Linked DNA regions of Homo sapiens. The protein of the gene in region 4 interacts with the protein of the main gene of each other region in a pairwise test. Each region holds a gene or a part of one and is shown on either strand. Other genes may lie near its edges.

Region 1 (3,055 bases), on a different chromosome or scaffold from region 4:
TCACCTCATAAATCTATCTTGTGCCCAGCACTGCCATGAGGCAGAAGTTCTCCAACATTATGTCTCTGTGGAAGCCTCTGGGGAGGGCTTAGGAATTGCCAACTCCTCTAGTGAAGTCACTGCCACATCCGCGCAGCACACAGAACTTCACGGACCTGAAGCAGGCTGGAAACTCTGCTCTCTCCTTACAGAAACTGGAGGAGCTCAGACATAATTGCTGGAGAGGGCATGAAGGCACAAGGCCTGGGCTGACTTGCACTGCTAGATGAGTCCTATACTCACTCACCCATCCTCTACAATCATGCTACCCAGACCCCTTGTAACTAGTTGTACTCATATGACTGGGACCTGGCTCGAGGGACAGGAGCAGAAGTGGTGTGCTTTCTGGAGGCAGACACAGTGGTGGGGAGGCAGACACAGTGGTGGGGATTAGAGCAGGTGTCCTGTAACATCTTCAACCCTGTGGCTCCCTTCATGAAATACACATGGCATGTCTTGGTCTGTTTGCATGGTTATAAAGTAACACCTGAGGCTGAGTAATTTATAAAGAAAAGAGGTTTATTTGGCTCACAGTTCTGCAGGCTGTACAAGCAGCATGGTGCCAGCATTTGCTTCTGGTGGGGGCTTCAGGGAGCTTCCACTCATGACGGAAGGCAAAGGGCAGCAGCATCACATAGCAAGAGCAGGAGGAAGAAGGGAGGGAGGTGCCACCAGGCTCTTTTTAACAAACAGTTCTCACAGAAACTAATCAAGTGAGAACTCACTTGTTACCACAAAGATGGCACCAGGCTATTCATGAAGGATCCATCCCGATAACAGGAACATTTCCCACCAGGCCCCACCTTCAACACTGGGGATCAAATTTCCATATAAGATTAGAAAGGGACAAACATCCAAACTGTATCATGGCAGAAGGAGCCTGGCTCTGCCAGACAGTTGAGCTGTTTCATTAGCCCTGATTTCCCTTCTCAACTAGTATGTGTGCAAGCACTGAACTGCTATCTTGCGTACACAACTCCAGGGTCCCTCTGTTATTGGCGCTGGGTAGGGTATGGTGGGAATCCTCCAGGCCCTGGCCATGAGGTGCTCCGTATTTATTGCCTCTGTCCGGGTCATGGTGGGCAGGTGGGTCTGCCTCCCCTTCTGGACCAGGTGAACCTTAACAATAGGTGCATGTTTTACTCATTCCAAGTCCCCCAGGGGCCTGGCCCATGACTGGCACTGAGGAGTTAGGGGCAATGGCAGAACTGCCTGGACCTGAAGCAGGCTGGAACCTCTGTTCTCTCCTTACTGCCTGTCTCAGTCAGTTTTGATTGCGATAACAAAATACCACAGGCTAGGTGTCTTAAACAACATAAATTAATTTTTCACAGATCTGGGGACTGAAAGTCCAATATCAAAGGCACTGGCAGTCTGGTGTCGGCTGAAGGCTTTCTCATTTGCAGATGGCAATTTTCTATTTTATTTCCTTTTTTTTTTTTTTTAGCAATAAGGTCTTATCATGCCTAGGCTGGTCTCGAACTCCTGGACTCATGCAATCCTAATGCCTTGGCCTTCCAGTGCTGGGATTACAGGCGTGAGCCACTGCACCCAGCTTGAAGATGGCAGTTTTCTTGTATGCTCACACAGCACAAAGTGACCTCGCTCTAGTTCCTTCCTTTTCTTATAAGGACTCGATCTCATCGGCGAGCCCCACCCTCACGATCTCACCTAAGCCTAGTCACCTCCCAAAGGCCCCACCTCCTAATACCACCCTCCTGGGGGTCAGGGTTTCAACATATAAACTTTGGGGGGGGACACAAACATGCAGTCCTTAACACCATCGTCATGGAGATGGAGGCCACAGACCTACCAACACCCATAACCTCAAGGGCACTGGTGGGGACAGAGGGGTCTTACCCAGCACTGCCATGTGGCAGAAGTTCTCCAACATTATGTCTCTGTAGAGGCCTCCAGGCAGCACTTAGGAATTGCCAACTCCTCTGGTGAGGTCACTACCACATCCTCAAGGCCCACAGTCTCCTGAAACAACAGAACTTTGCTGCTTCATGGAGGAGCGTCAGTATGTCCACACCATAGGGGTGTAGTCACTTCCCTCTGCCAGGGAGAATGGTGGAGGAAGAATGGATTCCTAGTGTATTTTTTCTCTTCAGAACTGACAGCCCATCAAGGTACAATGAAATAGAAAAAAGGCTGGCCAGGTGCCAAGTCCCAGCTCAAGCCTGGCAGCTCCTCCCACTGAGCCTCATGGTCACCCCAGAGGACAGGCCTTCCTTTCACACACATCAGAAATAGGGAACCCAAGACCTCGAGAGAGGAAATGGGCCCAGGGACATGCCTTGGCTTGGGGTGGCTTAGGACCAGGGCAAGACGCCTGACCCCAGAGCAGACCATGCTGACACTGGGCAACACATTCCCTGCTCTGGACCTCAGTTCCTTTGGCTACTAAGGAGGCCCAACGATCCTCGCCTGTGTGGGACGGGGCTACCTGCAGACATAGAGGGCCTTTGAGCACCTCGTAGCTTGCTTCCCAGCCAGCCTGGGTGTGGAAATGGCCGTGCTGACAGGCTCTCTGCGATAGGGCCCAGCCATGGCCAGTGGGCCTCCCACAATCTGCCCCTGGGTGCAGGGCCTTGAGCAGGGAGGCCATCGTGCTGCCTAAGAGACCAGGACCCAGCAGGGGCCATACCCAGATTCAGAGGCTCAGGACCACCACGGAACTGAAAGGAGGTTCAAGGCCTCAAACAAGAGTGGCCCCTAAAACAGTTGGTAAAGGAGTGTTTTCACCTCTGTTTACAGTTGAGTGCACTGCTCAAGGTCATGCAGCTGGTGAACAGCAGGGAGTGAGCAGTGGAGAACGTGAGGCTGGTCATTAGGAGCAGGTAGCCCTGGGTCTCCCTCTGCCCTCAGCAACTTCACACCTGCCCCTCCCTGGGCCCCAGTCTCATCCCTAAACAGGAGTGACCCCACCTCATTTCATGTCATCATCACTGCCCTGCAAGGGAAACAACAGATGTGCAAGGTCTGAGGGTCCATGTGTAGAAGCAGAGGCCAG
Region 2 (3,236 bases), on a different chromosome or scaffold from region 4:
AGAGGTGAGGGGAGGGGCCCAGCCTCCAGTCCAGCTCTCACCCTTTTGTGCCCACTGCCCTTTGCCAAGGGCTGCACCAAGACCAGCCCCACCTACCTGTGTGCTCTTTTCCAGGCCACTCTTTCTGAGCTTTTCCCCACTGACTTAAAACCTACCCAAATCACTCCTGCCTTCAAAGACCTGGAAAAGAGTGCTGGATGGTGAGACCCACAGGTGGAGGGATGGCTGAGAGGGTGGACTTGCTATGTGGCTGAGGCCAGGTGGACCAGAGGAAGTGGTAGGTGGACAGAGCCAGGTGCTGGCTGGCACCACCAGGCAGTGGCCGGTGCAGGTGCTATGAGGAGGCGGGGATGCCGAGGGGTCCTGACCTCTGTCCACTGCCACCCGGAGGGCCTGGAGGACAGAGTAAGGAGATCTTGTCCTTGGGGCCAATCCCCATGCTGATTTCCTGCCAGGCACTGAGGGCTCCTGGGGCCCAAGACCCACAGAAGGCTCAGAGCACACTCAAGCACTGGCCTCGAGACCAGAGCCACAATGGGGACGGAGCCTAAAATAAGCATTTTATTTAATAAAAAATGGCTTCTACATCTCAAATCATGTCCATAACTTACAATCTAAATGAAAGCCAGTTACATAAATAAGAAGGTCATTCTGGAAGAATCAAATTCTAGAAAACAAAACAAGAAAAAACAAGTTTCAAACGATGTTGATGTGCCACCGAATTGAAGAAACTGCCCAGGCGTCCCCTCTGGGTAGTGCTGCTGAGTAGCCAGGACTGCTTGTGGGGGTGAGGCCACCCCAGACTCGGAGGCCCCTGCTGTCCTCATAGCACCCCTTGACTGGGCTGAGCTGTCCTACATCAGAGCTCCTGCCCCCTGGCCCGGGCACCTTCTTACCTCACGGACCCCGCCCAGCTGCTCAGCCAGCCCCCTGGCACCCTCCCATGGGGGCTCTCCCTCCATCCCTCGGCACTCTGCTGCTCAGCCCTCCTAGCCCAGGCCACCTGTGCCCCTGCCTCAGTGGAAGGACACACAGCAGCATAACATCACCACCAAGCAGGCTGCAGGGGAGGGGTTTGCCTCTAGCACCCACTCCACTGCCAGAGAGCCCCACCTCTGCCTCCGCCCCACCCTATGCAGTCCTGTGATGCTCACACTCATCGTCTAAGGAGAGAGTGGGCCCCATTTTTGGATGAGGAAACAGGCTAAGCCTGATTAGGTGGCTGGCCCAAGGTCACTGCTGATGACCCTACAGAACTTGCCAAAAACCCCGAGGGTCTGACTCAGAGCCCCGCGCCCAAAATGGGCCCCATGTAGCCCAGGCCACCCTGAGAGGAACTGTGGGGTCCCTGAGGCCCCCTATGCTGTTGTCAGCAGAAACCCCCACTCCAGCCCCAACAGGAGAACAGGTGCTTGCCCCTGGAGGGATGGACAGATGGATGGATGGACGGACGGATGGGAGAGTGGGGAGGACCCCAGGCCTGGCCTGAGGGACCTCCTGCAACAGAGTCTTGGCAGGGCCCATCTGCCACAGCCGCAGCCTCCAGGCTAGGGCTCTGGGAGATGCAGGGCTGGATGTGGCATTCCCTGTGGGGAACCTGGGCTGAGAGATGGTTACAAAGACACAAGGCAGGCCTATTTCCTGGGAACCCTTAAGAAAGAGGTAGCACATGGGGCAGTGGGAGGTGTCCCGGGACAGTGACCTGCCAGTGAATCCCAATGGGGCCCTCAGGACAGCTGTGTGCTGGTGAAGGCCCCAGCAGAACCAGCGCTTTGGAATTCCCAGCTAAGCGGCTGCCAACAGCTTTGCTTTCTCATGAGCCAAGCACACAAAAGCCCGGATGGCTGCTCTGCGGGCTCTTGCCCAGCGCCTGACACGAAGGCTGTGGGACAGGAGGCTCCAGGTGGCCTTCGAGGGCAGCACCAGGGAGTCTGTGTGTGACATGTGTCACACGCGATGCCCAGCCCAAGTGTGGTCAGCAGAGGGTGAATACCAGCTCTTTCTGAAGGGATCGCAGGGGCTTAATGAAATTAGCTGCCTCAAAATGCCCCATTGTGGCCCTGCTGGCAGCCTAAGGACAGATGTGCTTGGGAAAAATGTGTTGGCTCCAATCTCAAGAACCCTGCTTCGGTCTGAAACCCAAGTAGAAGCCTCCGTTGAGGGAGGACAGAGCAGGGCATCAGGGTCGGGCTCTGAGGGGGCTGCTGCAGCCACCCCTGCAGAACCCCTGTAACTCACCCTAGGACAGGAGGGAAATAAGTGCGTCCAGAAACTTGCTCCGATCCTCAGCTTTCAGCTCAATTACTGAAGTAATGAAAGAAAAACAGCCGTGAGAAGGGAGGAGTGGGAACACAAGACAGGGCACAGAACTCCCCTCCGCTGCCTGCCCTCCACTGCATTCCAAAGTGCGCGGCTCCTCCCGGCCTGTGGTATTCTGCACTCAGTGGTTGTGTCTGTCTCACTGTACTTCATCTTCACAACTGCTGTCTGCACTGCTAGAGAGGTCAGGGTTGGGGCCTGCAGGGAGAACTCCCCCCCGGGAAGACAATAGAGGTGACACAGGGAAGGGCCCTACAGACCTGGACAAACACGGGCCTGCCCACCCCAGCTGGCATGAACCCCCGTCCCCAGAGTGGGTTGTGGAAGTCCTTGGGTGGGGCAGGTCACTTTTGGCCGCACTCTGGCCAATTCCTCGGCTTCAGTGTTCTCTTCCGCACAAGGGGACATGGTGCAAACTGCCCATATCTCACAGGGCCCTCAGGCTCAGCTGAGCACCCAGACCCTCACCACAAAGCAAAACCAGGCCCCAGGATGGGGCTGGCCTGGCCCTGGGAGCCATCTATGCTGCCAGCCACAGCCCCGAGAGCCCCAGACCCAGCCCACGCAGGTGGGCACTAGACATGGCCCACTCTGCACCCTCACCCCTGGCTCTCCACCCTCAGGGAAACCAAGCAGTTCCCAGCCCGAGTCCTCCCTGTATACTGAAGGCCAGATATTCTGCAGGCCAGTGGGTGTCCATCCACCTCTCCCACATCACAGGCACAAAAGAGTTAGCAGGGGCTGCTGTGCGGGGTGAACCAATGCCACACAGTGCCACAGCCATGGCTGGGTCTGGCTCAAGGAAGGCAGCTCTGAGATGGCTGACGCCACTTCAACAAAGGCTGGATCTCCCATGACAGTGTCTATCATTGTTGAGGAATCCGTGGTGATGAGGCAAGAAAATATCCTTTCTCAGA
Region 3 (8,016 bases), on a different chromosome or scaffold from region 4:
CAGATACGCACTTTACTAGATTCAAGCTGACAGAGAGAGTCATAGCAATGTAAAGGCCGCAGAAGTTATGAAATTATTTTCTCCTGTTAATACTGTCAGGCATGAAGAAATAGAGTCTGGAGTAGAGACAGCATTTCATGACTACTGACCAAAACTCTTCAGCTTCTTTGACTATAGAAGGTCTTTCCTTTTTTTTTTAGACAGTTTTTTTTTTTAAACCAAAAGTCATCAAATCAAGTTTGTGGCTTGTGACCAGGATTTTTTCAAAGAAAAAGAAGAGATGAGAAAATAGACTATATCAAACAATATACCAAGTAAGGATAGGTTTTGTTTTAGGAAACTGCTTTCGGTTACGTGTTTGTATGTAAGTGTGTCTTGAATTGCTACGTAAAAACGTGAGCTTTCTTACTCTGTGGATTACAGTAAAGCAATCGTGTGAAAGCCATTGTTCTGGGAGACAGGCCTATTAATCAGGCATGTCCTATACTTATAAAGAGGGCTGGTGTTTATCTGAATGGAAGCAAACATGGCTGGCTAAACTAGCAATGAAGGATTTAAACTATTTGTTTTGGGGAAAAAATTTATATGTGTGTGTGTGTGTGTGTGTGTGTGTGTGTATTACACTCAAGTAAGAATCTCTCAATCAGCTAGGAGGAGACGACTTCCCATATAAAATTAGAAATAGGAAGGGGAAAAGGAAGAAAGGGAGGAAAGAAAAAGTGTAAGAAAAAAATTGAGGAATCTGTTAAACTTGAGGAACTCCTAGGATGTCCATTTCTACCTAAAAAAGTTCAGAAGACAGACAAAAAAGGGCAGAGAAGTACTTATTCCCAAGTGGAGAATATCTTCTTGATGAAACTGAAGTGGGTCCTGAGTAGCAGGGCCTGTTTTTGGGGCTTGAACAGGTCTTCTGACTAATAGGAATAACTAACATCTATTAAATGCCACTTCATAATTTCCAGCTGATTTAAACTTCACAACTTTATGAGGTAGGCCCTAACATTTCTCCTGCAAAGAGGATGGGGGTGGCACAGGTGGTTGCATGGGTGGGCAAGGAGAGCAGGTTAAATTCCAGAAATATTAAAAGCAATTGTCAGAGGCTGGGCACGTGGCTCATGCCTGTAATCCCAGCACTTTGGGAGGCCGAGGCAGGTGGATCACGAGGTCAGGAGATTGAGACCATCCTGGCCAACATGGTGAAACCCCGTCTCTACTAAAATACAAAAAATTAGCTGGGCGTGGTGGCACGCACCTGTAGTCCCAGCTACTCGGGAGGCTGAGGCAGGGGAATCACTTGAACCCGGGAGGCAGAGGTTGCAGTGAGCTGAGATCACGCCACTGCACTCCAGCCTGGCGACAGAGCAAGACTCCGTCTCAAAACAAGCAAATGAGCTTAAAAAAAAAAGAAAAAAAAAAAACAGTTGTCAGAAAATATTCCTAGTCATGGGTATTAGAGTATGGAACTTTTCCCCCTAAGGTCCTAATATCTAGCAATTCTAATCAGTATATAGACCAGTCCAAAATTGACATGTAATCATATTACTTACATTTTTCTTTGTCAAAACCAATATAACAGATATTTTGCTTTTTATTCTGGGAATGGCAAGTTAGTAGACATGTCATCCTTATGTGATTTTAGTCCTGCATTTTTTGACATTATTAAATGCAATAATTCATAATGAATTAATATTAATACTAATGATAAATCAAATCCAATGACAGTAGGATTTTTAAATTCTATTAAAATTAGCAGGTCTTCTCATTTCAGTCTCTTTGCTTCAGCAGCATGTTATAAGAATTTTGACCAAAGACCTTTCTCTCTATGCTTTATATATTCTTGATAAATTATAATTTCCACTAATCTTATTCCCTGTGGATAGGTAATTCTTTTTCAAGGCTGACATATAATTATTTTTTTAAGAGATGTAGAAGGACCAAACCAAATAATCATTACTTTTCAAAAAGGCAACATTGATCTCACTTTTTAATGTTTAAAGTGCACCACACAAGGCAAATACTCCCCAGTGAGAAAAAGAAGATAAGGTGCAATTTTTCAGAAAATGCTATTGCATAGGCTTAGTCTGATGTGAGTCTTCCTTGGAAGCACCAAAGTCCTGAGGTTTAAACAAATCAGGAGAAATAATTTTGCGTTTCCGGGCCAGGGCAAAATTCTGCTTTAATCACTGAGCTGGCATTAGTGGGACTTTTAACATTAAAAAAAAAAAAAAAAAAAGTCCCACTAATGCCAGTGATTGCCCTATTCCTAAAGCCTTTAGCCAAACATTGTAAGGACAGCCTGGACTCAAAGAAGGGGAGTGAGGCTGGATCAAAGTCCAACATCAAACTAAGTTAAGACCTTTGGATTAGAAAGTCGGCCTGCACACTGGGACCTGTTGTGGGGTGGGGGGAGGGGGGAGGGATAGCATTAGGAGATATACCTAATATTAAATGACGAGTTAATGGGTGCAGCACACCAACATGGCACATGTATACATATGTAACTAACCTGCACGTTGTGCACATGTACCCTAAAACTTAAAGTATAATTAAAAAAAAAAAAGAAAAATAAAAAGTCGGCCTGCAAAGCCAAAGTTGCAAGTAAGCAGGAGGGCTCCGCATGAAGGACAGGTCGAGGCCAACTCCCTAAGTGTTGATCTGTCTCAGCCTCAGCCTCAGTTTCCTTATCAGTAAAACGGGGACGAGAGTTCCCTGCGAAGATTAACCAAGCTAATCTAGGTTAAAAAAAAAAAAAAAGAAAAGAAAAAGAAAGAAAGAAAAGAAAAAAAAAGTTCCTGGCATGTACCAGTTGCTCAACTCTTGAGTGTCCTTCTCGGTTTAAACCGACGGGGGAGAGTCAAAGCCTCCGGAGCCAGAGGGCGGCTAAGGCCCGCACGGTCCCCGGGCTGGAGGCGACCGAGCCCGTTACCTGATCGCGTTGACCGGCGGGTTTCGGAGGCGGATTAGCGCCAAGGCGTTGTGCAGCCGCGTATACTCGGCCATGTTTCCTCTATCACCGAGGGCACCTCTGCCTCTCGCCGTCAGGCAAACCACTTTTCCGGGCGCGCCCGGCCTCCTCCAGAGGAGGGACGCCGGCTGGGCCAATGCGAGCCGGGGCGCCGCCTCCCGCCGCGCCTCTTCCCACCCAGCCCTCCTCTCCCGAGACCCCACCCGGCGCTCTACAGACGCTTGTCGCTTTCCCTTTATTAACTCCCATGCTGCTCCCACCAGAAGGTACAGCAAGGAGAATGATGGAAAACAGCTGTAATTGCCGGCAAGTCGAAGTTTGTAACCCCTTGGCCCATAGGGGCTGGCTACTGAGGACAAGTTCTGAGTTCGCTGAGACGGGCAAGCTGTCCTCATCGCGGTATTCATCTTCATGATCTTTCTGAACAGGGACAGATACCTGGGGCCCTCCCTGACAGTTATGTGATATTGATACACATCTGGAACACATAAAATACACATTGTTCATTTCACCTAAATGAGTAGGGTACTAATGAAACAGCCTTTGCAAAAATTCTAACAGTGAGAAAATTATGGCAGTCAAAGAGATCTGATTTAACCAACCCCATCTTGCCTTTAGCTGCCCTTAATTATTCCTGAGCTTAGGCCAAGTTAACTTTGGGAGACATTTGGTTTATAGTTTAAATGATAATAGCCCTTCCCCAAAACTCAACTGCCTTTGTAAAGCTAACCGAGAGACCACCAGGCTAGGAGGACAGAGGAGTGTGAATTCTCTCTGCTAAGGTGTAAACATAGACCATTGCCAGCCATTATTCCGGAAGCCACCAGATAGACAACTTCCCCATTTACTCCTGCAGGTAACATTACTATTGTAGAACCTAAGTTTGGCCTTTTGAGATATTTTTTCACGTTTGCCTGACACTGATGGCTCCACCTGGACCAGTCAACAGCTCCTGTGGCCCCACCCACAAGCAACTCAGTACAAGAGGATAGCTTCAACCCCTATGATTTCATCTCCAACCCAACCAGTCAGCATTTTCCATACCCTAGCCCCTGCCCACCAAACCACCTTTGAAAAACCCCTAACCTACTAGCCTTCGATGAGATTGATTTGAGTAATAACTCCATGTCCCATGTGGCGTGGCCAGCCTCACATCAATTAAACTCTTTCCTTACTGCAATGCTGTGGTCTTCCTGAATTGATTTTGTTTGTGCAGCAGGCAGGAAGAACCCATCCAGTGATTACTCTAACATCAACCAAATACTTATATAACATTGTTACTAGAGGAGGGTCTGGACTGCAAGTTGTCCAGGTTCTTGGCGTTTTGAACAAAGAATTGGACGAAACACACAAAGCAAGGGAAAAACAAAGCAACAGAAGCGAATATTTATTGAAAACGAAAAGACACTCCACACGGTGGGAGTGGGCCCAAGAAAGAGGCCCAAGGGACCTTGTTACAGAATTTTCTGGGGTTTCAATACCCTCTAGAGGTTTCCCATTGGTTACTGGGTGTACGCCCTATGTAAATGAAGAGGACGAAGTGAAGTTACGAAGTCATTTACTCAGTGTACACCCTATGTAAATGAAGAGAATATTTCCTGTCATAGCTGAAGTGTTTCCATTTGATTTAGTTCTAGAAAGTCTTTAGGTTCCCTGCCTTCAGGCCCTATACTCCTGCCTCAACATCTTTTTTTTTTTTTAATTTTTATTTTTTGAGACGGAGTCTGGCTCTGTCGACCAGGCTGGAATGCAGTGGCGCGATCTCAGCTCACTGCAAGTCCGCCTCCCGGGTTCACACCATTCTCCTGCCTCAGCCTCCCGAGTAGCTGGGACTACAAGCGCCCGCCACCACGCCTGGCTAATTCTTTGTATTTTTGGTAGAGATGGCGTTTCACCGTGTTAGCCAGGATGGTCTTGATCTCCTGACCCTGTGATCCACCCGCCTCGGCCTCCCAAAGTGCTGGGATTACAGGCGTGAGCCACCGCACCCAGCCCACAACATCATTTTTATTTGTCTTACAATCACATGCAACTAGCGAAACTGTTATGGGTGGACGGTGTCCAGGTTCTTGGCGTTTTGACCAAAGAATTGAAAATGCAAAACAAAGCAAGGAAAGAATGAAGTAGCAAAAGCAGAGATTTATTGAAAATGAAAGCACACTCCACAGGGTGGGAGCAGGCCTGAGCAAGTGGCTCAAGGGACCAGTTACAGAATTTTCTGGGATTTCAATACCCTCTAGAGGTTTGCATTGGTTACCTGGTGTATGCCCTATGTAAATGAAGGATGATGGTTGGGTGCAGTGGCTCACACCTGTAATCCCCGCACTTTGGGAGGCCATTGTGGGCAGATCACAAGGTCAGGAGTTTGAGACCAGCCTGATCAACATGGTGAAACCCTGTCTCTAATAAAAATACAAAAATTAGCCCGGCGTGGTGGCACATGCCTGTAATCCCAGCTACTCAGGAGGCTGAGGCAGGAGAATCACTTGAACCTGGGAGGTGGAGGTTGCAGTGAGCTGAGCTTGCACCACTGCACTCCAGCCTGGCAACAGGCGAGTCTCCATCTCAAAAAAAAAAAAATAAATAAATAAAATGACAATTTAAATGTTTAAATGGCCCATCAGGTAGCCAAATGTACCTGAAGCTTTGATTGTAAACCAAACATTGGTTATAAACTATTTTAGCAATTTATAAGTCAGCAAACCAGTATATATTTAATCTGGATCATTTTATCTTTTCCATGATGAGTCACGGAATGCAGAAACTTTAATAACAAAAGCTTTAAGGACTCAGGAAGAACAAGGTGGCCATCTTGGTTTTCCATGAGTCCATGCTTAACACTGGACTTATGTCCTCTTGAATACCAGTTGTTTCTCCAATTTAGGTGCATAGCACTGATAACTAATGGGTTTTCATAGCTGATTTGACTTAGACCATGGAGTTCAAATGACTTTAAATAGTGATAGTTAAAAACACTATTGACAAGGAGATTTGGTTATTTCTGTGGTCTACAATAACACAATAATTATGATTGATAGCATATACTCAGACATATTAGAATTTTAGAAATTCCATACAATTCTGGAACATATATTAATATCATTCACTAATATATAACCTGAAGATGATTAAACATTATTTTTTATTTTCACAATGCTTCCCATGTAACTAAACATATCAAATAATCCTGTTTACCTCTCTTTTGGATGGTTCACGGGCCTGCTGTAGCATCTCAAAGTTTGAGGTCAGAAAAGACAATTTTGAAGCTGCAATTTGATTTTGGGAAGCTTGTTAAATGTTTATAAAAATTAACATTCTCATGCCTTCTCATTATATTTTACCATTCATTCAACCAGTTTGCACAAAGAGGGGCCAGAAGTCCAACTGGTAAGAAATTCTTACCCTTTTGCCGGCATGTCAGCTTTCTTGAGTTCTCTCTCCATGAGCAGCCCTAGTGACCCTGCTCAACTGTATGCAAACAAACACATTGCTATGAATTAAGAATATTCACAAACAATTTACAAATTTTGAAGAAATTAGGCAGAGAGAGAGAAATATGACTCAAGTTCTATTTACAAAAGTATACTCAATATACTTAAAGTATCAGGAAGCCTAATATCCAAAAAGTTAGTTTAAGGTTAAAAAGCTTAGTGTGCTCCACCAATTCCTGTGAGCTCAACAAAGGTAGCCTAGGAATTCCAGATAAATGGAACAAATGATGACTTGGTAGAAATGCATAGAAAATAAAATAACTATTCACAGAACCAAATAAAAGCCTTCCACTAGAAACTAAAACAACAAACAAAAAAATGGTTTTCTATTTATGCGACCACAAGCAAAGCCTGGAGGAGAATAAACAGCAAACAAATGAAAATTAGAAGCAAAAACAAACAGGAACCCCACCCTAAATTTTTCCTACTCAATCTACCCTGGAGGCTACAGTGTTACTCAGGGCCCCCAAACACCCATATAATGAATATTTTATTCCTGATACACCATTCAATATCCTTAAGTCCACCAATATCATCATACATCCTGTACAATCAAGAAATTCACTCTAGGCACATGACCAATAAGTACTCCAGTGCCAGCACTATCCATGCAAAACAGTAAACGGTGTGAAGCAATGCATGCATGTATGTGAAATTTAGCTCCATACTTAACCAGCTTCATGCTTAAGTATATTAAAAAATATACTTATATTTCTTATTTTACTTTAGGCAAGACTAAGAGCTCTAACTATGAAATGTTAATTAGTCAAATTTCTCCAATTTTCTATCAGGTTTTAAGGAATATTTTATTATCTAAACTTTTTTTTTTCACATTTCTCTCCCCTACTTACTGGTTCCTTACTACATTGTTTCATAAATAACCTTTTCTTTTTTTTTTTTAATTATACTTTAAGTTCTAGGGTACATGTGCACAACGTGCAGGTTTGTTACATAGGTATACATGTGCCATGTTGGTTTGCTGCATCCATCAACGCGTCATTTACATTAGGTATTTCTCCTAATGCTATCCCTCCCCCAGGCCACCACCCACCGACAGGCCCTGTTGTGTGACGTTCCCCTCCCTGTGCCCATGTGTTCTCGTTGATCAACTCCCACCTATGAGTGAGAACTTGTGATAGTTTGCTCAGAATGATGGTTTCCAGCTTCATCCATGTCCCTGCAAAGGACATGAACTCATCCTTTCTTATGGCTGCATAGTATTCCATGGTGTATATGTGCCACATTTTCTTAATCCAGTCTATCATTGATGGACATGTGGGTTGGTTCCAAGTCTTTGCTATTGTGAATAGTGCTGCAATAAACATACGTGTGCATGTGTCTTTTTTATTATTATTATACTTTAAGTTCTAGGGTACATGTGCACAACGTGCAGGTTTGATACATAGGTATACATGTGCCATGTTGGTTTGCTGCACCCATCAACTCATCATTTACATTAGGTATTTCTCCTAACGCTATCCCTCCCCCAGCCCCCTACCACCTGACAGGCCCTGGGGTGTGATGTTCCCCGCCCTGTGTCCAAGTGTTCTCATTGTTCAA
Region 4 (7,047 bases):
ATTATGATTGGGATTGCATTGAATCTGTAGATTTAATTGGGGTGATGGTGGTATTGCCAGCTTGACAATATTGAGCCTTCCAATCCATGAACATGGAATTGAGTTTTGAATGTTAAACCAAACTGGTATTCCTGTACCATTTGGTCATATATTGCTGGATTTGGTTTGCTTGTCTGTTCTTATGGAGACTCTGGTAGTATCAGAGTTTAGGTCTTGGGGTGGTGAGGATGAACATTTTAACATGTTTAGTTTTAAAGTATATTTCATTGAACCTCCCTTCTTCAGTGGTCTTTGAAGAGTTTTGAGTGCAATCACCATTGAATTTCTGGCTGGCTTAGCTGTCTTATTTATAAAGTTATTTTAGGCACCAAGAAATTTCTAACTGCATATAACTTTCAGTATTGACAATTTCTCTGATATTTCTCCTTGAACTTTTCAAAACAATGTATTTCATCACTGTTGCCAAAATTTTCAAGACACATTTATCTTAGCGATTATAAAAGAATATACATATTTTAATTTTAAAACATTTGGAATTATGATTAAACATCCTCAGTTACGTGGAGTATGAAAAATGTTTTAAACTGAGTTAAACCTCTGGAACATTATATTTTAATTTCTTTAGGAAATATATTTACTCTCTAAGGAGCCCTTCATTAAATTACTGTAAAGTTACTTGTGACACCACCCATTTAACTTTTTTTTTCCCCCCGCAATATAGCCGGGGTCTCACTATGTTGGCCAGGTTGTTTTGAATTCTGGACCTCAGGCAATCCTCCTCCTTCAGCTTCCCAAAGTGCTAGAATTACAGGTGTGAGTTACCACACGTGTTCACGTTTAACTTTAATATGCTGAAACTTTTTAACAACAGGAACAGATTGGTCTTTTGTTTCTTTTACCTAGAATTCAGATGTATAGAAGATAAATGTGATGTTATAAACAGATTAAATGTCTGTCTGCATTTTAGAGGTCTTAGTTGGCTTGTTTTTATAAGACAGTGAACCATAATTTTGAGCATAATTATTTCTGAATTTTTATATTTGATAGACAAAGAATCGATGTGTTTTCAGTAATTCAGTGTTAAGCATAAAGAAGGAATGTTTTCTGTCATTGCAGTGGGTTTCTTTTTGGTTGCTTTTGAATTATTAGGTGATCATCAGAGAAATTATTTATGGAAAGAAATCTCAGGGAGATGATCTTGATACTATGAACACACGGAATATTTCCCACCTGTTGTTTATACAAGTGATCAAGTAGGTGGTGTACTATACATTGATAGAGAAATGTAGTGTCTTTGTATACAACATTTCAGATGACTTTTTTTTTTTTTTTTTGTAAACTAATTGTGGACAGTGGAAAATAACCAGTCTCATCATTAGCGTTTGAAGTTTGAAAATTTGGTTGTCGGTAAATCAAATTCTGACTAAAGATGTTAAAGGATGTTACAAGGTATCTGCTAGTGGAAGAGGGAGGCATTTTTCATTAGAAAAATACATTACCAACCAGACAAAATAAAATTATTAATTGTTTCACAGACTGCTTAAAGACTGCATTAAATAAAAATGATCAGAACTTTAAATGTTTTATTTATAGAAGACTATTTATTTATTTTTTTACTATCCTGCTTTTTTAGGTTTTACACACGCTGGAAAGATTGGGAATCATGGTATTCTCAGAGCTTTGGTTTACATTTTTCCTTGAGAGAAGAACAGTGGCAAGAAGACTGGGCATTTATACTCTCTCTTGCTAGTCAGGTGAGGATGCTTCAAGTCTTGTTGCTTCTATGAGAAAAGTAAGCATGTAGTCTAAACTGGTTTATTTGAGCAAACCATGTTGGGGGCAATGTGGTCAAAGAAAAGAATGCTTGACGTGGTATCATCAGTCAACTTGGGTTCTAGTGATGACTGCTGTGTATCAAATAAATAGCATCGCAAGTATAGATGAGCATCGCAAGTATAGATTAGCATCGCAAGTCCTCACTGCAGAGCAGGAAGAGTAACGTGTTTTTATATCGAATGATTAAAAACATCAAAAAGTGAAAGCTGTGCTATGACGGTTACATACAGTAGATAGTCTTGGGATTGCTCTCCGTTCCTGCAGCATAGGCTTGATGCCTATGGTACCTATCCAGGTGAGCTCTGTTCTGTCTCTGGGGACACTTAAGATTACTGGTGTAGGTACTTGCATTGCTGTTGCTGATCTGTCAGGCCCTGAGGAACCAGTTGTCAATCTTCATAATGCTCCCTGTGGTGAGGCAATACCTGTGTCATGTAGGCAAAGGAAAAGGGTAGTTTAGCTTACTCTGAACTAATTACCATCAATAGGAATGATTTCTGATTAATGTGGGAATGAAGTTTTGCAAGTTTGCTAACGTCTTTTTATTAATGAAGGCTGCTTGTGACACAGAACTGTGTAGGGTTGTCCCTTAGACTCTTGGTTTCATGCTTTATTTTGTGAAGCACTTCAGTATACCAAACTGTAAAGTACAAATATATATACAACTACTCCTTTTTTTTTGCAGAAAGCACCATGGTTCATTTGAACTTAGAGAAGGAGGTACCCGATCTTTGGGCAATTTGGGCAGGATTCATAGTGGTTGATTTACATGAGACATGTATCTCACACCATGCATTGTAGCTCGATGATGGACCCATTTAATATTAGTATTCACGAGTTAGTTGATACTGCCATTTACATTTGCATGAAACAGGCTCACTTATTTATTTCAGGAGGACTTTGTTGTAGGTAGTGCTTTCACAGTAACTTAACGAGAATGTGATAATAAAGCATCCTTAGTTATCTGAATCTCTGGTTCCTGAGGTTGGAGAGTTAGTAGTGAGGGATATTTCAAAGTATGTATGCACATCTGTATAATTTGTGAGTTTGGATGGTAAATGATATTTGCATGTAGCCTTTATAGATTTCTTTTACAGTTTTACTGGATTTATTATTTGAGGAATCAAATGCTGCTTTGACAATCTTTTCTTTCTTAAAAACCAACTGCGATAGTATACTGAAGGGGAGGTAGTATTGTTTTTTACACATCAGTTTTCCAGGAGTGGTAATAAATGTTTTAAGTTTTTGTTTTGTTTCGTACAGCCTGGAGCAAGCTTGGAGCAGACGCACATTTTTGTACTGGCACATATTCTTAGACGACCAATTATAGTTTATGGAGTAAAATATTACAAGAGTTTCCGGGGAGAAACTTTAGGATATACTCGGTTTCAAGGTAAGCCATTATTCAGGAACGTTTTACAAGTTTCTTTGAACGGAATGGCTCAGATGTCAGGAAGGAGCAGTGGACAGGGGAATGTGAACAAGGGCAGTGAGGGAGTGGCTCTTTCTTCCTGTGACTGTTGGGATTTTCTTCCCTCTCTTTCCAGGTGTTTATCTGCCTTTGTTGTGGGAACAGAGTTTTTGTTGGAAAAGTCCGATTGCTCTGGGTTATACGAGGGGCCACTTCTCTGCTTTGGTTGCCATGGAAAATGATGGCTATGGCAACCGAGGTGCTGGTGCTAATCTCAATACCGATGATGATGTCACCATCACATTTTTGCCTCTGGTTGACAGTGAAAGGAAGCTACTCCATGTGCACTTCCTTTCTGCTCAGGAGGTAAGCAGTTTCTCCTATGAACTATTTCTAGTAGTGACCTTGTACCAGAAACAGCCTGAAGTGCCTTTCAGGTGTGGTTTTATCTGCACTATCACTTAATTTCTGAATGTGATGGTAGTAATTGCTGAAGGTACTAGCTATACTTTGAAATTTACCTTTTCAAAACTGCTGTATGGGGACACATCAAGGAACTTAAGGTGGTGATGGGTTTTAAGAAGAAAAAGTAAAGATGAGGTTTGTGATTTAAATATGGCATTTTAGGGAATGAGAAGTGAGTTTTTATCTGAAAGCAGAGTTCCAAGAATTGCAAGGCCAGTGTGGTTTAAGAGGGGAAGCAACAGGGAAAGAGAGAGGGTAGGCGGCAGGGGGAGGGAGGAAGGGAGAAGAGGTCAGAGAGGATAGGGATGGGGGGGAGTTCATTGAAGGCTTTTTAAAGCTTTGGGTTTTACTCTGGATAACGTGGTAAACCAATGGCCAGTTTACCCAGAAGAGGAACATTTGGGGTCTGGTGCATGGCAGGAGCAGGAACACCAGGTATTGTAGATGAAGGGGAGTGAAAGGGTGCTGTAGACCAGACAGGGGAGGTGGTGAGAAGGTACAAAAACAACGCTCTTTCAGAAAGCCAGTATTCTTATAAAAGTATTGGTCTTTTATTTAATATACTAGTAATTATAAAACGTTTATAATCACAACATGAAGAAAAAAAGTTCATAGACCGTAACTTGTATAATTTCAGCTTGTACATAATTGACTAAGTAAACTTACCTTGTCATGTGTTTGAAGCTGTGGCTTGCCAGGATCAGTTTATTAGGACATTTGTTTTTTATTTTATCTAACAAATTACCCTCTAGTGTGCTCCTCTTTAGTTTTTTTCTGAGAAATTTCCCATTTATGTCTTTTTAAATTTAACCAGAGCAAACTGGACTTTAATCACAAAACTTCCAAGAGGTCAAAACCATGTGAAAAGTTGATTGCTTTGGCCTTTTCATGAGTTAGCATACCAGCTGTAGGTTTCCATGTCACATTCCTACCAAGTCTCTGATCTGTTGTATGATTTTCCCTTTGTCTTCATATTCCTCCAAAAGCTAGGTAATGAGGAACAGCAAGAAAAACTGCTCAGGGAGTGGCTGGACTGCTGTGTGACGGAGGGGGGAGTTCTGGTTGCCATGCAGAAGAGTTCTCGGCGGCGAAATCACCCCCTGGTCACTCAGATGGTAGAAAAATGGCTTGACCGCTACCGACAGATCCGGCCGTGTACATCCCTGTCTGATGGAGAGGAAGATGAGGATGATGAAGATGAATGAAAAAAAAAATCAAACAGCAGAAGACCAAGGCATCAGATCTGTAATGACCCTAAAGTTAGTGTGGTGCTCCAAGCAGAGTCGACATCATGGAATGAACCAAATCTGGCAGGATCTGCTCGGGGAAGTGTTTTCCTGGACCACACACACCTTATGGAGATAATGCCTCTGCTGCGTGAGGAGACAGAGAACTTTAGTTGGACTACAGTTTGTAAAAAAAACTAATTTTATTAAGACAGAACTTTTTTTCCTTCCAAATTGTAAATCTGTCTATAAATGTAACGCATGTGGTTGTGTAAGACATTGTTTAATAGGAAAAGTTGTACCAGCATCTTCATATTATTGAGAAAATTTTTTCCAGCATGGGCACTTAGAAAAAGCACATGGCAAATGGCTCTTTGTTCCTTTCAGATATTATTTCAGTAGAACCTGGCATTCTACTTTCACCTTAAAAGATCCATCTAAGTCTCAGATCTGGAAACGTTTTGTACCGATTATCCACAGCAAAACAAAAATAAGCTTTTATTTTATTAATAATTTCGTTCCTCTTGTGCCCAATCAAATCTTTTAGGAACAAACTGCAAGAAAAGCTAAGAATGTTTTAGAGTGAACTAAATACAGACATTGCTTACTTGTTTTGAAGAGGGTTTTGGTTTTGGTTATTGTGTCTTTAAGTTTTCTGATATGCCCCCTTTCAATATTTAGATATTTATTTGTTGGGAAGAATACCTTAAAATGAGGGTTCTTATTCCAGATTCTGGGCAGTGGTCTGTGAGTAGTTTTTTTCCTGGATGAAAAGGGAGCAAGCCCACTTGTCACTAAATGAATTGTGTGAAATGTGCTCACTTGGACTCCATCAACAATGTGCTGCTCCCAGATTGCCATGCCAGAGGGTCTTCGGATTCTTCCTTCTATCACCTCTGCTCTAAGCAAATCTTGTTAGAAGGGCATGCCTTTGCTTAGGCAGATTGGGAATACCAATTCACTACAGAATAAAGATTTTAAAAATGCAATAAGGTGGCAAATGCATTGTATGAAGAATTTCTCAGTGTTTAGTCTGAGAATTTTTGCATGTTGGTTAATTGTGGCCATTCTTTAATTTAAAGTTAAAACTATAATCTTAGGTAGAAAAACTTTTTTATAAGAAGTATTATTTGACCACTTCAGGTATACATTCAATACTGGGTAAAAATTTCAGACCTATCTCAGGAACACAGAAATATTTGGTGTCCTGATAAGCACTTTCTAGACTATTGATGTGGCCAGGAATTTGGAAAGACGACACACGCACGCGCGCGCGCGCACACACACACACACACACACACACACACACAGTTTTTTCCTTCCCTGTGATGAAAAAGGCTGTGAAAACCTTAAAGTATTTGCTTGCTTCTTGTTTTGTTTAGTTGATAATGAAATGTGTACAACCTCAAATTTGCTGCCAGAATACTAAAAATAGAAAAATACCCACAAAACTGTCATGTCTTTAGTTCTTTCCCCCCGAAAACTCAGTAAAAAGGTGTTCCCAGGATGAAAAGATCATTTTTTGCTGCATGCTAAATCTTGCAGGAAAAATGATTTTTTAGTACGATTCTGTAGAAATGAATCTTTGATATAATGTAAATGCTGCTGTTTGTTTCAAGTGGTGAATGTGTTGTTAAAAATTGGCTGTTTGCTTTCATTTTGGCCAATAAGTAATCAAGTTTGTAGAAAATGTTAGCATTCTGACTACTTAGCATCTGTAGTAATTTCTCTATGTATAGGGATAATTTTTTAGTGGGCAGAGATCCTGTTCTAGTTGCCTGTTAAGCAAAATCTGCCCTCCCAATTGAAAAAGCCAAAGAGAATTGTTAGAGGGAAAAGCATGTAGCCATTGCAGTCTGCATTGCAGCCAGCGTTGTCCAGAGTACACGCTCAGCACTTAGCTTCTACTGTGTGTTGTGGTCTGGTGAGTGTTGTTTCCCCTGAGCGCTCTATTATTTATTTATTTATTATCAATCAGTGACCCTGACCACATAGTGTGATAGGTGCAGCATTCTTCCCTGTGGGAAAGAATTAAAGATGGTTCCATTTCCTAGGCTACAGACAGGAATGGGGCTCTAAATGGTTTTCATAGACTGGCTGTTAAAGGCC

What was found.
Region 1: the proteins of ZRANB1 (region 4) and JRK interact in binary tests that used the Homo sapiens proteins (3 or more experiments, as listed by UniProt).
Region 2: the proteins of ZRANB1 (region 4) and CDC45 interact in binary tests that used the Homo sapiens proteins (3 or more experiments, as listed by UniProt).
Region 3: the proteins of ZRANB1 (region 4) and EHHADH interact in binary tests that used the Homo sapiens proteins (3 or more experiments, as listed by UniProt).

Annotation. Positions count from the first base shown.
Region 1 is NC_000008.11:142,656,923-142,659,977, forward strand, and holds the end of JRK (jerky protein homolog), read right to left. Parts: 3' UTR 2,023-3,055; coding exon of another isoform or gene 1,933-2,022; 3' UTR 538-1,932; downstream 1-537. UniProt on the Homo sapiens protein: May bind DNA.
Region 2 is NC_000022.11:19,517,912-19,521,147, reverse strand, and holds the end of CDC45 (cell division control protein 45 homolog), read right to left. Parts: intron 2,305-3,236; coding exon 2,240-2,304; 3' UTR 2,239-2,239; intron 668-2,238; 3' UTR 540-667; downstream 1-539. UniProt on the Homo sapiens protein: Required for initiation of chromosomal DNA replication. Core component of CDC45-MCM-GINS (CMG) helicase, the molecular machine that unwinds template DNA during replication, and around which the replisome is built.
Region 3 is NC_000003.12:185,251,023-185,259,038, forward strand, and holds the start of EHHADH (peroxisomal bifunctional enzyme), read right to left. Parts: upstream 3,028-8,016; 5' UTR 3,001-3,027; coding exon 2,927-3,000; exon of another isoform or gene 2,804-2,926; intron 2,251-2,803; exon of another isoform or gene 2,188-2,250; intron 1-2,187. UniProt on the Homo sapiens protein: Peroxisomal trifunctional enzyme possessing 2-enoyl-CoA hydratase, 3-hydroxyacyl-CoA dehydrogenase, and delta 3, delta 2-enoyl-CoA isomerase activities. Catalyzes two of the four reactions of the long chain fatty acids peroxisomal beta-oxidation pathway.
Region 4 is NC_000010.11:124,980,076-124,987,122, forward strand, and holds part of ZRANB1 (ubiquitin thioesterase ZRANB1), read left to right. Parts: intron 1-1,149; exon of another isoform or gene 1,150-1,253; intron 1,254-1,633; coding exon 1,634-1,754; intron 1,755-3,099; coding exon 3,100-3,229; intron 3,230-3,383; coding exon 3,384-3,613; intron 3,614-4,241; exon of another isoform or gene 4,242-4,698; coding exon 4,699-4,917; 3' UTR 4,918-7,047. UniProt on the Homo sapiens protein: Ubiquitin thioesterase, which specifically hydrolyzes 'Lys-29'-linked and 'Lys-33'-linked diubiquitin. Also cleaves 'Lys-63'-linked chains, but with 40-fold less efficiency compared to 'Lys-29'-linked ones.